3 linked regions of the Homo sapiens genome follow. The protein of the gene in region 2 interacts with the protein of the main gene of each other region in a pairwise test. Each region holds a gene or a part of one and is shown on either strand. Other genes may lie near its edges.

Evidence for each region. The genes of interacting proteins can lie anywhere in the genome.
Region 1: the proteins of SFT2D1 (region 2) and SLC30A8 interact in binary tests that used the Homo sapiens proteins (3 or more experiments, as listed by UniProt).
Region 3: the proteins of SFT2D1 (region 2) and NDRG4 interact in binary tests that used the Homo sapiens proteins (3 or more experiments, as listed by UniProt).

The regions. Positions count from the first base shown.
Region 1 is NC_000008.11:117,137,991-117,145,016, reverse strand, and holds part of SLC30A8 (proton-coupled zinc antiporter SLC30A8), read right to left. Parts: intron 1-7,026. UniProt on the Homo sapiens protein: Proton-coupled zinc ion antiporter mediating the entry of zinc into the lumen of pancreatic beta cell secretory granules, thereby regulating insulin secretion.
Region 2 is NC_000006.12:166,332,546-166,339,571, reverse strand, and holds part of SFT2D1 (vesicle transport protein SFT2A), read left to right. Parts: intron 1-7,026. UniProt on the Homo sapiens protein: May be involved in fusion of retrograde transport vesicles derived from an endocytic compartment with the Golgi complex.
Region 3 is NC_000016.10:58,503,139-58,510,164, reverse strand, and holds part of NDRG4 (protein NDRG4), read right to left. Parts: intron 6,460-7,026; exon of another isoform or gene 6,422-6,459; coding exon of another isoform or gene 6,368-6,421; coding exon 6,262-6,367; intron 6,012-6,261; coding exon 5,891-6,011; intron 5,807-5,890; coding exon 5,744-5,806; intron 5,577-5,743; coding exon 5,516-5,576; intron 3,779-5,515; coding exon 3,692-3,778; intron 3,608-3,691; coding exon 3,551-3,607; intron 3,254-3,550; coding exon 3,150-3,253; intron 2,358-3,149; coding exon 2,301-2,357; intron 2,218-2,300; coding exon 2,166-2,217; intron 1,204-2,165; coding exon 1,156-1,203; intron 1,012-1,155; coding exon 976-1,011; intron 865-975; coding exon 813-864; intron 1-812. UniProt on the Homo sapiens protein: Contributes to the maintenance of intracerebral BDNF levels within the normal range, which is necessary for the preservation of spatial learning and the resistance to neuronal cell death caused by ischemic stress.

The sequences.
Region 1 (7,026 bases), on a different chromosome or scaffold from region 2:
TTTCTTTTTTAACAGATACATAGAGAGATTATCCCCTCTCAAACTGCTACACAACAGTCTTGATGTGCATGTGGATTTAGCTAAATGAGAAACAACCACTATAGCCAGGGGAATATGGATGAGCTGATTGACTTAGGCATTATTATACTCAGAAGACTGGCAAAACCCAGCCATGCTGACTCATAGAGCTGAGAATAGGGAAAATTCTACCTAAACCACAGGGCTGCTCCTCAGTGGGGAAGCGCTAGAATGGATGTGAATAAGATGATTGCATCACAAGAGGATCCTACCAAAGATACAGATTCTGAACCTGATTCTCAGCTATCAATATTGTTAATATTTTCTCCATTTATAAAATTTTCTATATCATTATGTTTAAAATATGGAAGGCAGTATATATTTAATATAGCTATATCATAGCATAATTAACTAATATTTTTAAATTATTGGACAACTCATTTTTTTCCAATTATTTGCTCATATAGGCACTACTATGATTCACATCCTTATAATTAATCTTTGCTCAATATATTATCTCCTTAAAGTGGAATCTTAAAGGGGAAATTACTTGGTCAAAAGGTACCTACATTTCTAAGGATTTTGACATATATTGCCAAACTGGCTTTGGAATATACATTAAAGCCAATTTACAACATTGGTTTTTTATCAGTTATGTGAATAGCACTCAGGATTTTGAGTAGTTCCAAACAATCTTCTTAGTTGGAATAAGAACAATTTGGAAAGTAACAAATAAAGTATTTATATCTTAAATGAGTAGACTTTTGCTTTTGTTATGTATAATATCCTAATAATAACCACAGAATTTGGTAGTTTGGGTCCCCAGTGGCCATCATCTCAGAGGAACCTGAGTACTAACTTGAACACATTGTTGAGATTTACTGTTTCCTTGGGCTGAGAAGACAGCATGAGCAAAGCAGGCTCACCAATTGTTCTGGAACTGCCTGGTATGCTGTGGTCATATGAAGCATTGCTTTATTTTATGTTTCTCATGAATCTTATGACCAGGGAAAGCCAAGTAGTCAGTGACCAGGAGAGATAATTTATCCTGGAGCAGCTCAGAAGCCAGTCCAAAGCAAGAATCAAACCTGGAGAAAAGCCCCTGAGCAATGCCACAAGGAGGAAAGTGTGAAAATGTGGGCAATTTTTACTTTTGTGTACTGCTTCCCTGTCTTGGGTTCTAAGGTTAACAAATATGGATATACTCTGAGCTGAGACTGCTCCTTGAAGAACTAAGCCAGAAATCCAAAAGTGGGCTTCATAAGGTCCATTGGAATTGTATACGATGTGTTCATGTGTGAGTGTGTGTGTGTGTGTGTGTGTGTGTGTGTGTTTTATGGGAGAGGCAAGAGTACACAGTCTTCACTTGGCTCCCAAAAGAGCCTGTGACCTCAAAGAAGTTAAAAACCAAAGTTAAGATATATTCCTTATCATCTCATTAAAGTCAAGTCATCTAAGTATCTCTAGATGCAGAACAGGCTCTTGATCAGAACAATGATGTGAATTTTAAGTATTATTTTAAGAAGAAAGTTATAAAAAGCAAATGCTATGATGCAACAAACACTGAATTGTGAATCTGCTGTTAATGAATAAATCCTGGAAGATTCCCATGCATTCAAATATGGCCAAAGCTTTAAAAATTAGGAATAATAGGCCAAAGAAATTTACTGTAGCATCAAAGAGAAAAAAGACGGAGAAAAAGAGATGAAAAAGTACAGAAATATTAGAAAATTTGATGCCAGTACTCTAAAACTTTGATTTCATCTCCAAAAATGGGATTTAGAAAATGGGACTTTATTTTTGCAATCTTGGAGAAGCTTTTATTTTTTAATGTTTTTTTGTTGAGTGGTAGAACTTTGCTTCTATCTCCAAAATAATGTTGGTAAAATTTGTATTTTTTTATCCTCTTATTTCAAATGTTGAGCACATAAAAATCACTTTGCTTTTGTACTTTCATATCAATTTTCCCAAGAACCTCAAATCACTATTCCTGTTAGAAGGGGAGATAAAAGCTTCAGCCTCACCATGAATGTCTAACATTTCATTCATTCATCATTAAATATTTACTGCATACCTAAAAAGGGCCTGCACCATCAGAAGTGTTAATGATACCATGTTGTATGAGAAAAACAAAGTTCCTTCTTTAAAGATCTTGTATTTTAGTAGAGGGAGACAAAGAGTAAATGAATCAATAGTAACAGAGGCTATATAGTATGATGAATGGTGAGAAGGCAAGGGAAGATGAACTACCTTAAATTGTGTGGGAAGGAAAGGCACCGCTGTGGAGGTGATATCTCAGCAGCAAGTTATAGAATTACCAGGAGAAAACCTATGTGAGTGAAGGCTATCCCAAGTAGAGGGCATTGCTGGAGCAAATGCCCAAAGACAAGAAGGATTTTCTTGTTCAAGTGCTTGTCTTGAACAGAAAGAAAACTACATAGGTGTCCCCTGTGGCGTAAAGAAAGAGTGAAATATAAAGAGGTCAAAAAAGGGATCAGATTTTGCAGAACACTTCAGGCCATTATAAAGAGTTTAATTTAATTCAAGGTCTAAAAGGAAAAATTTGGAAAGTTTTGAGCTGGGAAGTAACATTACATGGTTCACATTTCTAAAATGATCACTTTGGGTGCTGCCTGGAAGACTAGAGTGTAAAAGATCAAAACATAGAAACCCTTAGGAGGTGACTACAGCCAACACATTGGTGGCTTTGACCCACGTGGTGACAATAAAAATAGAAAGAAGTAGTCATATTTGAGGGACTTTTGGGAGGTGGAGTCAATAGGACTTGCTAATAAATAACAGTAGTTAAGGGGGAATAATAGAGAGGTGCAACTCAAAGATGACTTGTTGGTTTCTGGTTAGAGTAACCTGGAGAAGGGCATGCCAATTCCCAAGATGGGGCTGAGTGGCAGGCAGTGCAGTATAGAGGCTGAGAGCTTGGGCTCTGGCAACCCACCACCTCAGTTGAACTCCCACCCTTACCACTCACTAGTCATATGACTGTAAGAAAATTACTTAACCTCTCTGTGCCTCAATTTCCCCATCTGAAAATAGGAATAATGATAGCATCACTCTCATAGGCTGCTTGAGAGATTTTTAGCTAATTCATATAAACCACTTCAAAGTGTAACTGGAACAAGATGAATGCACAGATTATTAAATTATTTCCAGTCTGAATGTCTTTTATTTTGTTGTCTTCCCAATTGCTCTGGCTAGAACACACAGTACCACGTTGAGTAGAACTCATTGAAGTGGACATCCTTATCTTGTACCTGATTTTAGGGGAAAGTTTTCAGGCTTTCACCATAATTATGATAAAAGACTGCACATTGGTACAGTGTACACTGCTCAGGTGATGGGTGCTTCAAAATCTCAGAAATCACCACTAAAGAGCTTATCCATGTAACCAAACACCACCTGTTCCCAAAAAACCTATTGAAAAAAATTATGATATGAGCTGCAAGTTTTTCATGGATGCTTTTGAAGAAGTTTCGTTCTATTTCTAGTTTCACAGGTGTTTATATAATTAAAGGGTGTTGAATTTTGTCCATTCGTTTTCTGCATCTAGTGAGATAATCATGTGAGCTTTGTTCTGTATCCTATTAATATGTTGTATCACTTTGTATTTCAGATGTTAAATTAAGCTTGCATTACTGGGATAAATCCCATTTTATCATTGTTCGTAATTTTATATGTTGCTGGATTCAGTTCATTAGTCTTTTCAAGGATTACTGCATCTGTATTCATAAGGGATATTGTTCTGTAGTTTTATTTTCCTGTGATATTTCCTCCTTTTTTGCTATCAGCAGAATATTGACCTCATAAAATGAGTTGGGAAGTGTATTTACACCTCTTCTATTTTGGGGAAGAATTTGTGATGAGTTAATATTAATTCTATTTTAAATTTTGGTAGAAATCACCAGTGAGGACATCTGGACTTGGGCTTTCTTTGTGTAAGGTTTTATGAAATTTATTAATAATTCAATATCTTTACTTATCAGATTTTCTATTTCTTCTTAAGTTCATATGGTAGTCGGTGTCTTTCTATGAATTTATCCATTTCATCTAAGATTATATACATTTTATTTCATGCAGTTTACTATTAAATCTGTTAAGAGGAAAAAGGAGAACAAATCATTTGTCTTTTATAATTACCCACATTATTACCTTTATTGGTGCTATTATTTTTTAGGAATGATTCAACTTAATATCTGGTGTCATTTGTTTTCTTTAATATTTCTTCCTTTACTATTGCTTTCTTTACTGATTTTTGTAAAGTGAATCCAGCAACAAATTATCTTAGATTTTGTTTGTCTTTATTTCATCTTTATTTTAGGAATATAGTTTAGGTAGATGTAAGATTATTGGTTGATAGGAATTTCTTTTTCTTTTACAGCTTTAAATGTCATCTCACTGCCATCCTCCTTTGCTTCTGGTAGAAGTTGGCTGTTAATCTGATCAGGATGCTCTCATACATAATGAATCTTTTCTTTTTTCTCTTGCTGCTTTCAAGGTTTTTTATTTGTGTTTTGCTTTTAATAGTTTTACTGTAATGTGCAAGCATGTAAATCTATTTGCTTGATTCTTCTTAGAGTTTGTTGACCATCATGAATGTGTAGATTAATATTCAACAAACTTCAGAAGTTTGGGGCCACTATTTCTTTGACTGTTTTTCTGCTCCTTTTTCTCTCTCCTTCTGGCCCTCTTATTATGAATATGTTAATGCATTTAACAATGTACCACATTTCTCTGAGGCTCTGTTGATTTTTTTACTTCATTCTATTTTCTCTGTTTTTCATGTTGCATAATATCTTCCAATCTATCTTCAAGTTCAGTGATTCTTTCTTCTGCCAGCTTCTATGAGTACAGCTCTACTGTTGAACCCCTCTAGTGAATTTTTAATTTCATTTATTGTACTTTTCAACTTCAGAATTTTCATCTGGTTCTTTTTTAAAAAATAATTTCTAACTCTTCATTGATATTCTCAATTTTATGAGACATTTTAAATCATATCTATCTTTAATTCTTTGTTCTTTGATTTTCTTTAATTCTTTTAACCTAGTTATAATAGCTGTTTTGAAATATTCAAATTCTAAATACAACACCTGGACTGTTTCTACTTTTTTTTTTTTTTTTTTTACCAGATGTTGTCTGACTTTCCCTGCATGCGCAGCCTCTGTTGCCATTCCTCAGAAGGTGCATCATTGGGTAGATGCAGTCTTTCTTATCCTCTCCCATTTCCAAGGGATAATAATCATTTTAGTAGTGTTCACTTTGACTGTTTCTTTCCACTATCTCACTGTTAAGTGATTGTTCTGCCTGTGTTGGTATCACACCCAGATTTTGGCCTTCTTAATTGTTTGCTGAATTGTTGCTCTATGGTTTTCAATAATACCCTGAGGTATGAATTGACCAACAATCTGATCCAATTAAATTTGTCTGCTTCAGCTACTATAACAACATACCACAGACTGTGTGGCTTAAACAACAAAAATGTATTTTCTCACAGCTCCAGAGGATGGAAGTCCATAATCAAGCTGCTAGCAAATTCACTGGTGAGGGTTCTCTTTCTGGCTAATAGATGCTTGCCTTTTCGTTACTTCCTCGCGTGGTCTTTCCTTAGTGTGTGCACCCAAAAAGAGAGAGAGAGTGAGCTATCTGGAGTCTCTTCTTATAAGAACATTAATTCTGTCAGATCAGGACCCCACTCTTATAACCCCAATTAACCTTAATTACTTCCTTAGAGGCCCTATCTCCAAATACAGCCACACTGGCATTTGTGCTTCAACATATAATTGTGGGGGACATAAACATTCAATCTATAACAGGCTTCTTTATAGGGGTAATATTTGAGGCCAAATTTTGTGGCTAGTGCCAAATCCAAGAGGGCATTTTTTACCTCTTTTTCTGCCTGTCTTTGCTTAACTTCTAGCTGGTCTGCCACTATCTTGTTGCTATCATGAAGCAACAAGCCTACTCTTAATTGTCCACCAGAAGAATCTTCATTGTTTTCAACAGTGTCCCTATGCTTGAAATACCCTATGCTGTCTTACAAATAAAATTCCAGCTTATGTATCATCAGTCTTCTAAGGGAAAGATACATAGCCCTCTATTCTTATGGCCTGCCTCTCCTATGAGTAGTACCTTTACACCACTGCACCAGAGCTGGCAGAAGAGACAGTGACCTACTTCTCCTGGAGCAATACTCTTGCTCCACAAGTGGAGCACTGAATACGGATCGTAGTCCCTAGTCTTTTTTGCTTATGCCTCCTGGAATACATCCTATACACTATGAGTGATCCAGGGCAGGGATATTCAGGACCTTGCTGCTCCTGGGCTAGAGATTATACCCTATGAGAGGAGGCTGGGTAGAGGAAGGAAACCATAGTCCTCTTGGTCCTGTCTACAATGAATAGAATTTCTGCAACCTGAAGCTGGGACAATAAGAGATTCCAACAGCCTTTTGCTCTAGGGGTGAACTATGATCTTTAACTGGAAGCTGGGAGGAGAGGGAGCCCAGTCTTTTGGCTACATCCACTCAGAGTTGAGCTCTCATCATACTGAGCTTGGGAAGAACAGAGGTTAATGGAGCAGATCTTGGCTCAAATGCCATAGACGCTCACTTCTTACTGAGATTTAGATTTTCTTGAATAAATAATTATTAATTTTCTGCATGCCCTTAAGACAACTTCCAGAGATTTTCATTTCTTTTTTATAATTTTTAGCAGTTAAATAGTTGTTGTAAAGGTTCTAGCAGTTTACCTCTACCATCTATTCCTGCCCTTACTTCCTCTGCACTTCTTCAACATATGGCTTGGGGAAAAGAGAAACTTGATCCCTTCCACCTAGCACCAAGAAAAACATTGATTGTTTTTCGTGTTGTAGTTCAACTTTACACGACTTTTTTTTTTCTTTTTCTTTTTTTTTTTTTTTTTTTTGCTACAATGAACCCAAAGCCCAGAGAATCCCACCAATGAAACAGATTTGGAGAGAATGGAGAGGGTAAAA
Region 2 (7,026 bases):
ATTGAAGTCAGGGGAGAATAGAAAGAAGATGGAGATGGTATGGCCATCTCAGTGATTTTTCCTGTGGAGCAAAGAAGTGGGTGGTAGTTGAAGGATGCAGTGGGGTCGGGGAACATGTCATTTTCCCAAGGAAAATACTGGATGTTTCTGTGCATTGGGAATGGTCCAGGAAAGGGGAAAATTATGGTGCAGGCAAGAGGGAATTGTTGCTAGGGGGCTATTGAGGAGTGACTTGGAAAGCAGGTTTCTCTAGGGAGGAGGAAGGGGCAGGAAGTGGCAGTGAGGAGGGCAGACACCTAGCTCACTGCCTGTCCAAGTGGTACAGGATTCACAGGGGAGAGCCCTGGTCCTGGAGACTAAATTTCAAACCTAGCCGGAAGGTGAGAGGATCATCAGAGAAGAGGGTGAGGACATAGGGAGGTTTGCTGTTGGTTTTTGGAGATGGGTAGGAGATGAGATGGGATTAAAGGCGCACAGACCTGAATGGGGTGAGGGATGACCTGAGAGTGTTGCACGTCTTGTGCAGCAAGACGTAACCAGGATGGCGGGCACATTGGAATTGGGTCTTGACAGGGATGGTTCTAGGCCAGTTGAGGAGTTGGGCGAGGCAGTGAAGGTCATAGGGGAGCATCCTGACATCCAGGCTGCATCATCCTCCTATGCAGGCGCTTTGAGCCCCGGGGAGAGGCACGGTAGCCAGAGTTCTGGGACCTCTCCTTCGAGATGCCTGGGAAGAAGTCAAGGAGGGAGAGATATTGAGCCAGATCTTAAGAGAGTTGATCATATTCCTCCCCTGATCACATCCTTCATTGACTTCCTGCAGCACTTGAGTAAAATCCAGATCCCTCCCTTGGCCTCTCAGCCCTGCACTGCTTGTCGGCCCGCCTCCCCACCCTCTCCCCAGTGCTTGCCTTGCCCTGCCCTCTTTCTCCTCCTCAGTTGGAGCCATTTTCTTCTGCCTGGGAGACCTGGCAGTTGCATTTCTTTTTTCAGGAATGCCCCTTCCTGGCTCTTTTCAGAGTTGGATTGGTCACTTCCTGATGTCTTCACTTGGTCACCTCTTTAGAGAGGCTCTTCCTGACCCAGTTACTCTGCCCCTATTTATGTCCTTAGTAGAACCTGCCTCATTAGTTTATTGCCCATTTTCCCCCATCTGAATGTAAGTACGCTAGGTGCTGTCTTATTCCTTTCTGTGTATGTAGAACCTACCAAGTACCTGGTGTCTAATAGCTGTTCATAACTACTTGTTGAACAAACAGATGAGTGAGTTGTTTGGATTTGGGTAACTACCAAGGAGAGCTGAGGGCATTGGCATAAGGTAATTGTTGGGAGTTAGATGACAAGAACATAATGCCGGAACATTCTACAGAGTTCTCTTGTGGGAGTCCTACTAACCCCTGCTGACAATTTGCGAGATGTCTTAGTCCATTCAGCCTGCTGTAATAAAATACCTTAGACTTTGTGATTTATAAACAACAGAAATTTATTTCTTACGGGTTTTGAGGCCGGAAGTCAGAGATCAAGGTGCACTCATGGGTTCTTGGTGAGGCCTCCCCCTTCCTGGTGTCACACTGTTGCCTCTGGTTATATCTTGACATGGCAGAGAGCAGAGAGCTTTAGTCTCTTTCTCGTCTTATTAGGGCGTGGATCCCATTCATGAGGACTCCATCCCCATGACCTGATCATCTCCTGAAGGGCCATCTTCCAGTACCATCACCATGGGGTCGAGGATTTCAGCAAACACTCAGACCATAGCACACAGGTTGAGACAAGTCATTTGCTTGTTGACTGAGTTATTTCATATTTACAAATGGCATTAATTTATCATGTTTCACTTCAAAGATCACCGCGTGGAAGATGGTAATAAGAGAAAAATGCCTAATAAACAATTTAAGCTCTCTCTGCCTTTCCCACTTAGAAGATTGTAAGTATACCTACCTTATCTATTTCCCTCACTGTTCCCATGGTAGGTGTGGGTGAGGTGGTTAGGGGGAGTGTAGAGAAACACAAGGAGGAAGCTGTCTTTCCAGGTAGAAGGAGCTAAGGCGGCAGAGGAGACCCCAAGCAGGAGCAGCTGGCGAGGCGGGAGGACAGTCAGGAGAGCCGGTGGGACATGGGAGTTGAAGAGAACATTGTAAGCAGGAGGGAGTGCCAAAGTGTCCTGTGCTGTTGAGTTGGAAAGGATACTGATGCTTCAAAAATGTTCCTTGGAATTAAGGACACGGAAGTGACTTGTGTCTGCAGGGTTTCAGCCAGGGGAGGGCTGAAGCTAGAATGGTCAAGGTGAGCTTCCCAACCACTGTGCCAGGCGTGTGCCAGCTGGGGGTCCCGTCTACTCCTACAGCCTCAGATAAGGATTCCTGGGAAATAAGGCACTGGGCTAGGAAGGGAACTACATGAAAAAGTGTGGTGGGCCGAAGGGCCTGGGACCTTGACTGCACCTCCCCAGGGGCTACACTGCCTGGGCTGTGCTCCAAGTCTGGTGTGCAGAGGGAGCTTTCCCCGGGAGGCCTGCCTGCTAGAGCCTGTGTAATTGCCTGTGGCCAGCCCCAAAATCACTCACAGTGCTGTGGTCTGAATGTCTGTGTCCCCCCCAGAATTCCTATGTTGAAACTTAATCCCCAATGTGATGGTATGAGGAGGAGGTGCCTTTGGGATGTGATTAGGAATGGGTTTCATGCCCTATTAAAAAAGAGGCCCCAGGCCACATGCAGTGGCTCATGCCTATAATCCCAGCACTTTGGAAGCCTGAGGCAGGAGGATTGCTTGGGCCCAGGAGTTCAAGACCAGTCTGGGCAACATGGCGAGACCCCGCTTCTACAAAAAATTAAAAAATTAGTTGAGCGTGATGGTGTGTGCCTGTGGTCCCAGCTACATGGGAGGCTGCGGTGGGAGGATTGCTTGAGCCTGGGAAGTTGAGGAAAAGAAGGATCCATTGCCCTTTCCATCGTGTGAGGACTCAGAAGGTGTCATCTGTGAACCAGAGATGCCTCACCAGACGCCGAATCTGCTGGCGCCTTGATCATGGACTTCCAGTCTCTAGAACTGAGAGAAATAAGTGTCTGTTGTTTATAAGCTACCCAGTCTACAGTGTTTTTTTAAGAGAATTAAATAGTTTATTAGCTACATACAATTATGGATGATACACAAGCTTCATTCCCATCTATAATGTTATCTGGTACCATTATTCAGTTTAGATATATTGCATGGGATGTGCCAACAATCATTTTTATAACTAATAATTCTGTGACTTTGCTTGGGTGATCCCCTTTGGTGGTGAACTTCAGGTCACAACAGTAACTGTCAGTTCAGCTACACCGAGCTCACTGAAGACAGTGGCTTCTCCACCCGAGCAGAGTGTAAATAAGTTCCAAGTAGAACCTGGCATCACCCTGAAGGAATTCTGACTTCACACTCTTGGGGGAGTTTACCAAGATGGCTTCCGAGGAGACTAACTTTACACAGCACGTTTTTTAAAAGGACACATTTATTCAGTCTCATGATCAGACTATTACATTTAGCAATCAACAGCATGAGTGCAAAAGAAAAAAATTACATTAAAACCCTTTGTTGGAATGCTTGGTACTTTCCACAGAACAGAAACGAAAATAACCTGTTAATAAAATTAGTCACAAATACAGTCCTGGAGTTTTTTGCTCATACACGTGAGTATTGTCTAAAACATATCTTCTTTGTAGCAGCTGGGCTCTGCCACCACTGTGCTTGGCTGACTGAGTTCACAAATCTCTTGTAACCTGTAGCTTCCCTATCGCTTCTCTGGCTCTCCTTTCCGGCTAAACTTTGTTTCCTGGCAGTGATTAAAATCTTCTGCCAGTGCCATGGCTACTGCTGCTACTAGAACCACCATAGCCACCTTGGTTTTGTGAACCCATTTATGCCTGGTATTCCATTATTGGAACGCTAAGCATGTGGGAGTTATTTATGTTCTCCTGTTCAAGGTCATCGCCAAGGTCTGATTTTTCAAATTCAAAAAGTGCAACCTCAGGCATAAATGGGTTAAAATCTTCTGCCAGTGCCATGGCTACTGTTGCTACTGGAACCACCGTAGCCACCTTGGTTTTGTAAAGTAAAGTAAAATTTGGCAAAGTATTGTTCTCCACCACCATAAGGGCCAGAGCTTCTGCCTCCAAAGTTTCCTCCCTTTATGGGTCCAAAATTTGAAGGCTGATTGTTGTAATTGCCAAAATCATTGGAGCTTCTGCCACCTCCAGAATTGATTCCATCATTACCAAATCCATTACAGCCATCCCTGCTGCCACTGTATCCACCGCCACCGCTGTGGACAGCTGCCACCAAAGCCATCATGACCACTGAAATTTCCTCCATGACCGAAGTTGTCATTCCCACCAAAACCACCTCCACAACCACCACCAAAGTTTCCAGAAGCACTTCGACCTCTTTGGCTGGATAAAGCACTAGCCATCTCTTGCTTTCACAGGACTTCCCTAACTTCACAGTTTTGGCCATTCACAGTATGGTATTTCTGAGTGACAGTCTTGTCCACAGCGTCGTGGTTGTCAGAGGCACGAAGGCATAGCCCCTTTTCTTGGCACTACCTCTGTCAGTCATGATTTCAGTCACTTCAGTTTTTCCATACTGTTCAAGATCTCTTAGGCGATGTTCTTCAATGTCTTCTTTAATGCCGCCAGCAAATATCTTTTTCACAGTTGGGCACCTCGTCTTTGAGAATCTTCTCGAGACAGCCCTTTGGTTCCACAACTCTTCATCCACCTTGTGTGGCTTTGCATTCATGGCGCATCCACCTCCTTCACAGCGGCATACAGGACAAACCCAAAGCCCCAGAGTGCTTGGTGCTTGGATCTCATGACTACACAGTCCACGAGCGTTCCCCATCGCTCAGATTGGCTTCTCAGGTTCTCATCAGTTGTTTCAAAGCTCAGCCCTCCAGTGCCGAGATTCCACAGTCGGCCCTCCAGTGAGGAGCTTCCACAGCTGTTTAGGCTCTTTGGGAGACTCTGACTTACACTGGAGTGCAGTGGTGTGATCTCGGCTCACTGCAACCTCTGACTCCCGGGCTCAGGTGATCCTCCCACCTCGGCCTCCCAAGTAGCTGGCACTACATGTGTGTGCCCCCATACCTGGCTAATATTTGTATTTTTTGTAGAGATGGAGGACTCGCCATGTTGCCCAGGCAGGTCTTGAACTGGGTTCAAGCAATCCGCCTGCCTCAGCTTCCCAAAGTGCCAGGATTACAGGCGTGAGCCACAGTGCCTGGCCTATGGTATTTTTGGTGTAGCAGCCAGCACATAGATTTTTAACCAGGAGCTGGATCCCTTACCCAGCACTTAGAACAGGCACATAGCAGCACTCAGTATTTATTGAGCCAGTTAGTGGATGGATGGATGGATGGATGAATGGATGTATGAGTGTACAGAGGCTGGAAGGTGAAGTGAAGTAAGCTTTCTGTTTAAGATGGAAGGGACTTCATGTTTAAAAGTTGATGGATGCATTTTCAGAGAGTGAGAACATGTTCACTAGAGGAAAAAGCCCAATAGCATCAATTCCCTGAGCAGGTAAGGGGTTGGCTGTAAAGCAGGGTGGACAGGTGGATCTCAGCTCTGTGGGAACCAGGAAAGGACAAGAGCATGGGTGTTCTTAGTTGGTGTGTTTGGTGGTTTGGTGGTTTGGTGGCAGCAGGAAGGTAAGGGAGTTCACACTGATGGCTTTGGGTTTCTGTGTGTGAAGTAGGGGAAGTTGTCTGCTAAGAATGGAAGTGTGGGGCAGGAAGTGGAGGTTTGAAGTGGTTTAGAGTAAAATGGACGTTGAGATAAAGCAAGAAGCCTTAGATTGCCAGGCAGCAATGTGCAGGCCATGGGGGGCTGATGAGGACTGGCTCAGGACCCCCCTGCCCTGTGCCTGACTCCACCCAGCAGTGCTCAGCTCAGCACCTCCTGGAGCAGGAGGAGGGAAAGCTGCACTCCGGTGGGATTTTACCAGGTGGAGGCAGCGGAAAGGGAATTTGAATGTCCTGTTGAAGCCGCTGAAAAAACGGAGAAGGGCCGGATGAGGAGTTCAGGAGGCCAAGGAGTCAGCACGGTGGGGCCGAGGAACCAGCCTGCTGCCAGAAGAAACGGGTCGGAGAGCGGCAGCCGGAATTTTGGCGATGGTGTAATTTCGAGCAGGAAGACTGCCCTGGGCTGGGTCACTGAGTGGAGTGGAGGGGAAAGGCCAGTGGAGATCAGGGGATGCTGCACAGAAAGGCCAGGCTGCCCACGCACACGTGGAACCCGTGCCGCATGCTGCAAGGATCTGGATAGGCCCCGCGATCAAGAGTCCTGAATGAGAAGGAGAAAGTGTGGACCCCAGCAGCGGGTGTGGGGAGCGGGCGGTTCTGCCTGGAATGGGCCTGAGGGTCTGCGGATGTCTGTTTCTTTTTCTCACTTGTCTGCACAACTTTGACTTTTTATACCCACTGCTATTTTGAAAAAGGAGTGGGAGGAATACTGGATTCAGTGTCATCATTAGTGGAAAGCCACAAGTGTTTCCTATGTTTAGATGGCAGAAGCCCAGGGGCAAGGCTCAGGTCCTTCCAGCTGTGCTGTCTCCTGGCGATCCGTGGATTAGAGCTGTTCCTCAGCTTCTCCGTCACTTAAAGGGGTGGGTTTCGGCTGTGCTGTGGGAGCCACTCATTCAGCCTTCATGTTGTTGCTGCTAGGACTACATTTTCCTCTATTATGTTTCTCACCTGCTTTTGTAAAAAATTAATGAATGAAGTTCTAGTTGCAAGCAGTGCTGTGCTTACTGTGGCGGGAATAGGGGAGCAGCCCCTCCTCAAGGGCCTGTATTCTCTTGGCTTCCTCTTCCTCTGGTAGCAGATAAGTAAAATGATGGATGGTGGTTTTGGGAGAGGAAGAGGTGGCAATTTTATTTCTTTTCTAAGACTAAGAGATTAACAAAGTTGCTGGTTTTGGTGGGATTGCTCCTGATTGGTGGTAAAAGAAAGCAGCACATAAATGCTTATGATAAGCAGGCTGGGTGCAGTGG
Region 3 (7,026 bases), on a different chromosome or scaffold from region 2:
AGCATTCTATTCCTGGGTGTCCTCCCCAGCCTTCCCACAGGCAGCCCTCCTGTTTGCCCTGGAGATAGCTCCAGAGGCTGAAGTCTGGAGGGGAACAAAAAACAAACTGAGAAGAGGAAGTTTGCCTCCTGGCAGTGGGGACCTGGAGGAACAGGTATGTCTTGGAGGGAAGGGGGAAGTCAAGGAGACACACAAGGGGTGTGTTGTGTGTGTGTGTGTGTGTGTCTGTGTGTGTGTACCTGGTTCCACCCCAGACCCAGATTTTCAGATCTGCCAAGCCAGGTTCAGCTGCTTTCAGCTCTCTGAATGCCAGGCGGCCCCAGTTGCCTTCCCTGGCCCCAAACTCCAAGCCCACTCCTATGATGCCCCTGGGTGCAGCCATGAGTTGTTTCAAAAGGCCTTCTCAGGTGCCATAGACCCAGCTCTGACCCCAAGCCCTGGGGCGGGTGAGGGGAGTGTGCCTCACCCCCAGACAGGCTTCCCTGGCAGGACACGGCCCCTGGCCCTGGACCCCCAGCACGGAAGGAAGAGTCCCTTCCCCCAGTAGGCCCAGCACTGCCATCAGAACAGTGCGCCAAGTCCTCCCTAAGGGCAAAGGGGAGTTGGGCACAGCCTGGGATGGCCAACTTGCAACTCAGGTGGCATCTGTGGGGCCCAGCATCCGGGGCCCAGGTCACACAAAACTCCTATGCTTATGGGCTCCCTACTACCACCTGACACCACGTGCCAGCCCTGCAAACAGGAGCCCCAACCCCAGCACTGCCTGCCCACCGGTCTCTAGGTGGTGTGGGGTGGGGTGGAAATGTACTCACTGTAGCCCATGCCTTGCAGGAAGTATTTGAAGGCTTCAGTCAGCTTCCCTGGCTGCGGAGGGCAGGACAAGCACATGCTTTCATTGGCTGCCTAGGATTAGCAGGTAGGGTAGAGGCTTCCCCCTCCCCATAGATGTAAGGGCAGGAGGGCCAAAAGTCTCACCTGTGTGACCTGGGGCAGCCCTCCAGAGTCTGCCATCTGCAAGGGAGAGAGTGGGGTGACCTGAGCAGGGCCCTCACTCCAGGACAAGCTCCCACCCTGGCTGGGACCCCAGGAAAACACCTCCCTGAGGTTGGGCCCATGCTAGGGAAGCTGGCCCAGGGCTGGGGAAGAAAGCCTCACCTTCAGGAAGGTCGTAGTGGTCGGGTCCAGTTTGGAGTTGCACTCCACCTGAGGACAAGGAGCCAGCTTCAGCAACAGCCCCTGCCCCTCCCCACCCCCATTGCCAAGGCAGGTTTGATGCCCCAAGCTCGGGGAGGAGAGGGGGTGCAGGGAGGCAGAGGGAGGCCCAGCAGCTGTGACAGGCTGCTCCTCCCAGGCTTTCTTCTCCCAGGGCTCCCCATGTTCTTGGAGACCAGTTTAACAGCCCCACTGAAGGGCCTGGGACCCTTGGAGCCCACTCACAACTGCTAGGAGTGGGAGTCAGGCGAGGGCTGGGCTGCCGTGGTGGGACTGGCCTGGGAAAGCCCCAGTGCCCTCGGCAGTGAGGTGAGGGGTGCCGAGGGTCTGAGAGAGACTGGGTGGAGGGGGCTGGCACAGCCCACCACCCTGCTCTTCCAGGACCTCCCAGTGGGCATGGGAAAGCCTGGTATTTTCAGGGCGCACGGGGCTGCTCTGGGCACTTCTGGACCCTGCAGCTTCCCAGCAGCTCTGTGCTGATGGGGCATCCCAGCCTCAGGCCACCTGCTCCCAGAGTTCCAGCAGGAGAGGTGACACACGGCCCCCAAACATAACCGCTGCAGGTGACGGGAAAAGGGAGACCGTGCCGCTGTATGCGTTAATGATTTATAATGGCTTGATCACATTTTAGAAAAAAGATCGTACACCCTGGGCCTGAGGTGGGTAGGGACCAAGTTGGGGCTGTGCTGCTGGGGAGGGAAGAGGGGACCTTCTGATGGCCCAGCCCTGGCCCCAGCTCTCCCCATTTCCAGGCCTCCCCAGCCAGAAGGATGGGGGCTATGCCAGATGTGAGGCTTGGCAAGACTGTGGGAAAGTGGACAAGAAGCCCACCGTCCACTGCTGGCCCTGGAGGCTCCCCTGGGCTGGATCAAGAATTGTCCCTGCTGGGCAGGGGCCAGTGAGCCCCTCACCCCTACCTCCCACCCCCAGTGAGCCCACAGCCCCTCACTTACCACCCCGTCCTCAGCGGGTGCATTATCCCCAACCACCAGCATCACGGGGCAGCTGCAGATACAGAGGAAAAGGGCTGTCTGGCTGGGTCATGGGGGCAAAGGCCAGGGCAGGCCAGAGGGCCAGGGGCCACTCACCGGAGCGTCTTGGCATTGGGCACCGTTCCAGGCCGGTTAATGTCCAGGTCTCTGCGGCTGTGGGGCAGGGGGAGGGGCAGAGGCAGAGGTGGGCACCCCAGGACAGGATGAGGGGCATCCCAAGCCCAACACTGCCAATTGGTAAAGCAGGGAGGCGTGGACCTGCTCTGCATAAATGAACTGGAGGCTCCCTGTCACGGCTTTTTGGACTCCCTAGCACATACCAGGTGGGCTCTCAAATTTTGCTCTCTATCCCCCTCAGAGCCATGCGCACCGCCACCTGTGCTGTGGGAGTTTCTGCTACTGGCCTGTCTCCTGGACCATATGGGATGGCAGGCCCTGGGTCTCTCTATTCTCTATTGTTTTGTTTTCTTAGCACCATGCACACAGCAGGTGCTTAATATTTGTAGAAGAATGAGAAGGAGGGCACGTGAGTGAGGGGGCCTGGCCACCTTCCTGCAGGGCAGGGCAGCCCCTAAAGGGGGCTCCAAGGAGCACAGCTTGAAAACCACAGGCTCATCCGACCTCTTCCTCATTTTGCAGACGTCAACATCAAGGCTGGGTTACTGGAGTCAGGGATGTCACTAACACCCCCAACATTCCCAAGCGGGAAGCCCCCAGGGGAGGAGGAAAAGTGGAAGAGCCCAAGGCCCGGAGTCTGAAACCCTGTTCCCCTCTGCCCCTCACAGGGTGTGACCTTGTGCAGGAAATGACCTCCTTTGAGGCCCAATATCGTGCCCATCTACAAACCAGGGCAAGGGTGTTGTCTGCCTGCCTCCCTCAGGGGGCAGTGTGCAAGGGCCCCCACTGGGGTGTGCTGGGTCCCAGGGCTGCTGATCCCACCCGCACCTGTTGTACATGTTCCAGAAGAGCTGCAGGTTGGCCTGGTTCACCACGTTCCCAATCTGCTGCCGGTAGCTCTGCACCAACTCTGTGTTGTTCACCAGCTCCTCCTAGGCCCAGGGAGATGGATGGAGGCATGCAGAGGGGCAGACAGAGGGACGCAGGCTTAGAGGGGGCTGGCAGATGTCACTGCCAGAGTGGCCCTTGCCCCACTCAGCAGGCAGGGGAGACAGGGTGGGGGCAGGTAGGAGGTGTGGGGCCTTGGGAGGGGATGTCTGTCTTTCAGATGGCTTAGCATCTGGAGTGAGCCAGGTCAGATGCCAAAGACACCCGCCTGCCTCCTACCGAGCCAGCTGGGAGGGGCAAATCCCAGATCACCCCAGATCTGCAGAAGTTCCCCCCCTTACCTGGCTGAAGAGGTGGGAGAGCACCGTGTCGGGTAAAGTGCTAGTTAGGCCGGAGAGCTGCAGGGAGCAGGGCGCCAGCGTGAGTGCCGCCCCTCACCCCACCCTAGGTATACCCACCCCACCCCCGGTCACCACACACACCTTGGTGGCAGCCCAGTCTATCCAGCCTTTGCCATTGGGGTCGATGTTCACCAGCACCAGCCCCTCCACCAGGTCGGGGAAGATGAGCTGCAGTAAGAGGGGAAACAGGGCCGGGCGGGGCCAGGATGGGTGCAGATGGCAGAAACACTCTGTAAAGTCTTCAAGGTGCTGCTGATCAGCCACCCGGCTACAGCCGGGTCTGTGCATGCACACCCATGTCCAGATGCCCCTGCCTGTCCTCCTCTCACTGAACCCTTCACAGTTCTTGGATTTATTTAGAATCTCTATCATTGTTTCCACCCCTACACACACACAGACACACACACACACACACACACACGCTCTTTCAACAGAATCAGCTCTTAATATATTTTTGAAGTGCAAAATTGAGTATTAAACATCTTAAAATCTTAAGCATGTTGTTTTTTTGCTTTTATAGAGAATGAAGCCCTGGCCAGGCGCCGTGGCTCACGCCTGTAATCCCAGCACTTTGGGAGGCCAAGGCGGGCTGATCACCTGAGGTCAGGCATACGAGACCAGCCTAGCCAACATGGTGAAGCCCTGTCTCTAATAAAAATACAAAAATTAGCCAGGCGTGGTGGCATGCACCTGTAGTCTCAGCTACTTAGGAGGCTGAGGCAGGAGAATTGCTTGAACCAGGGAGGTGGAGGTTGCAGTGGGCCGAGATCATGCCACTGCACTCCAGCCTGGACGACAGAGCAAGACTCCATCTCAAAAAAAAAAAAAAAAAAAAAAAAAAGAAAATGAAGCCCTCATGATATAAATTAAGAAAAAAACAACCTTTTCAAAGTCTGTTTTGCCGTAGGCATTGCAAAAGAGGTATTTTCTTTTCAACTGTTAGACTGTGCTTAAAGAAAAACAGCATAACCACATCAAGCTTGTCTAGGGTGGCAGGGAATGGCCTCCAGTTAACAAAATGATTAAGTGCTGACATTGCAACTGGAGTTGAAAATTCTTGGTCATTTCTTTTGAAGTAGTAAATGTCTTCGATCGTGAAAAATTAGTCTTTTGGGTTTTTGTTTTTTTTTTTTTTGCTTGTTTTTAGAGATGAAAAGCTTGTGAATTCCTACCCAACAATGATTTTTTTTATTTTTTTATTTTTTTGAGACAGAGTCTCGCTCTGTTGCCCAGGCTGGAGTGCAGTGGCGCGATCTCAGCTCACTGCAAGCTCCGCCTCCCGGGTTCACGCCTTTCTCCTGCCTCAGCCTCCCGAGTAGCTGGGACTACAGGCGCCCGCCACTACGCCCGGCTAATTTTTTGTATTTTTAGTAGAGACTGGGTTTCACCGTGTTAGCCAGGATGGTCTTGATCTCCTGACCTCGTGATCTGCCCACCTTGGCCTCCCAAAGTGCTGGGATTACAGGTGTGAGCCACCGACAATGATGTTTTTGAAATGTGCCTTCTTTAAACCTCCCAACCATAATAAAATTTTTTGCTAAAAAAATTATTCATGTTGAAATACCATGGCAATTAGTGAAGGACGATCCTTATTTAGTGGCTAGAGCAGTTAGTTGTATAGTTTGTTGCTACTAGAAATTCTGGCTTTGGATAATAGTTTAAGCAAGTTATAGTTTCTAGTCTCTTGAGAAAACTATATGGAGAAAGGAACCTCTTTTTTAAAAAAGTTAATTTCCCTGGAGGAAAAAAGAAAAAAGAGGTTTTCTACATAAAGAGGAGGTGGGAGGAGGAGAAGCGAGAGCAGGGACACTTCCTCAAGGCTGAAGGGTTCCCCCCAGTCCCCACCACTGGGACATCCCTGGCTTGCCCTGGTGTTTGGGGTAATGGGGGCATGGGGAGACTCACTGCAAACTTGGCCAGCACATAGGCTCCGGCGCCCACTCCGATGCCAATCACATACTTGAACCTGGTGCAGAGCAGGCTGGTCACTCTAGGGCTAGGGGTGCCATTTCCCATACATGTCATCCAGAGCAGGCCCTGCCCATAGCCTGAAGCCCTCAGCTGGAGCCAGGTGGCTCTGCAGTTGGGGTAGGCACCCCTGGGCCCTAGCGCAGGGGCTGTGCGGGGACTCACCCGAAATGCTGCACCACGCTGGGGAGCATGGCAGCCAGCTGCTCCATGGAGGGGAACTGGTACCTGCAGGCAGAGCAGGAGGTCAGGGCCCAGGTGTGGCCTCAGGTGCAGAGCTGGAGACAGGCAGAGGGGGCTCAGGGTACCTACCCCTGAGGAAACTGCGACGCCCCCACCTGTTGTCCAGGGGCATCCACGTGACACACCACAAAGTGCTTGGTGATCTCCTGCATGTCCTCGAAGTTGAAGAAGGTGTTGAAGCATAGTTTGTCTGCAAAGACACACTTCCACTATGGCTGAGCAGAGGGGCCGGGGGACTGGAAGGAAGGCCGGGCCCCCAGAGGGCAGGCAAGGCAGAAGTGTAAGCCTCGGGTCCGTCGGGGAAATGGAGGCCCGGAGGGCGAAGGCAACAGAGGTGAGTGTGAGTGGGGCTGACAGGGCCCTGTGGGGAGGGTGGGGGGCCTCACCGCTCTGGCTGATGGGAGGCAGAGGAGGGCTGACTGAGGCTGGGCTGCACTTACGGTTGAGGCCCACATCATGGTAGGTGAGGATGGCTGGGCGGTTCCCCTTGGGGGAGCCCCGGATCACTACATGCAGAAGGCCGTAGGGTGTCTCGATGTCATGTTCCTGAAGGGGAGAGACCGTGCTGGACACTCTGGGCAGCCTCCGCTCTTGGCTCCTCTGGGGAATGAGGTGACGCAGCCTGGTACCTGTTAGGCCTGTGGTAGAGCCCCTACTTGGGGCATCCTGTTCTCATCACCCCAAGAAGCCCCCAGAGAGGACTGAATGGATGGAACACCCCTTCTCAGGGCTGTTCAGTACAGAGACAATGTGAACTGATCTGCATGGGGAAGGTCTGGTCCTCTCTGCAAACCAGCCACTGGTTTGTGCTGTCACTGTCCTCCGCCCTTGAGGGTCCAGGGAGGCTGTTTTTCTCCATCTTGCAGCAGCCCCTCCTGGACAGCTCTGCCTCCCCAGCCCAAGTCCCTCTCACACTCAGAACTCTCAGGCACTTCCTGCTGCTGCAGGGGAACGGCCTCAGTGGTCCTGCCTGGAATCCTCAGAAAACACCCCGTGCCAGCCAAGCCTAGCCCCGACCCCGGCACTGCCCCTGGCTCCCACTCTAAGGCTCTTGCGCATGTGGTTCCTTCCACCTTGAACGCCCTTCTGTGTGAGCCCAGCATCCTCAAGGGCTCCCTTCAGGCAGGCCCGGGTCAGACCCCCCTCCCCATCCCCTCTAGAGGCCTTCTGCAGAGCCTGCTCTGGGATCCTCTTGAGTTCACACC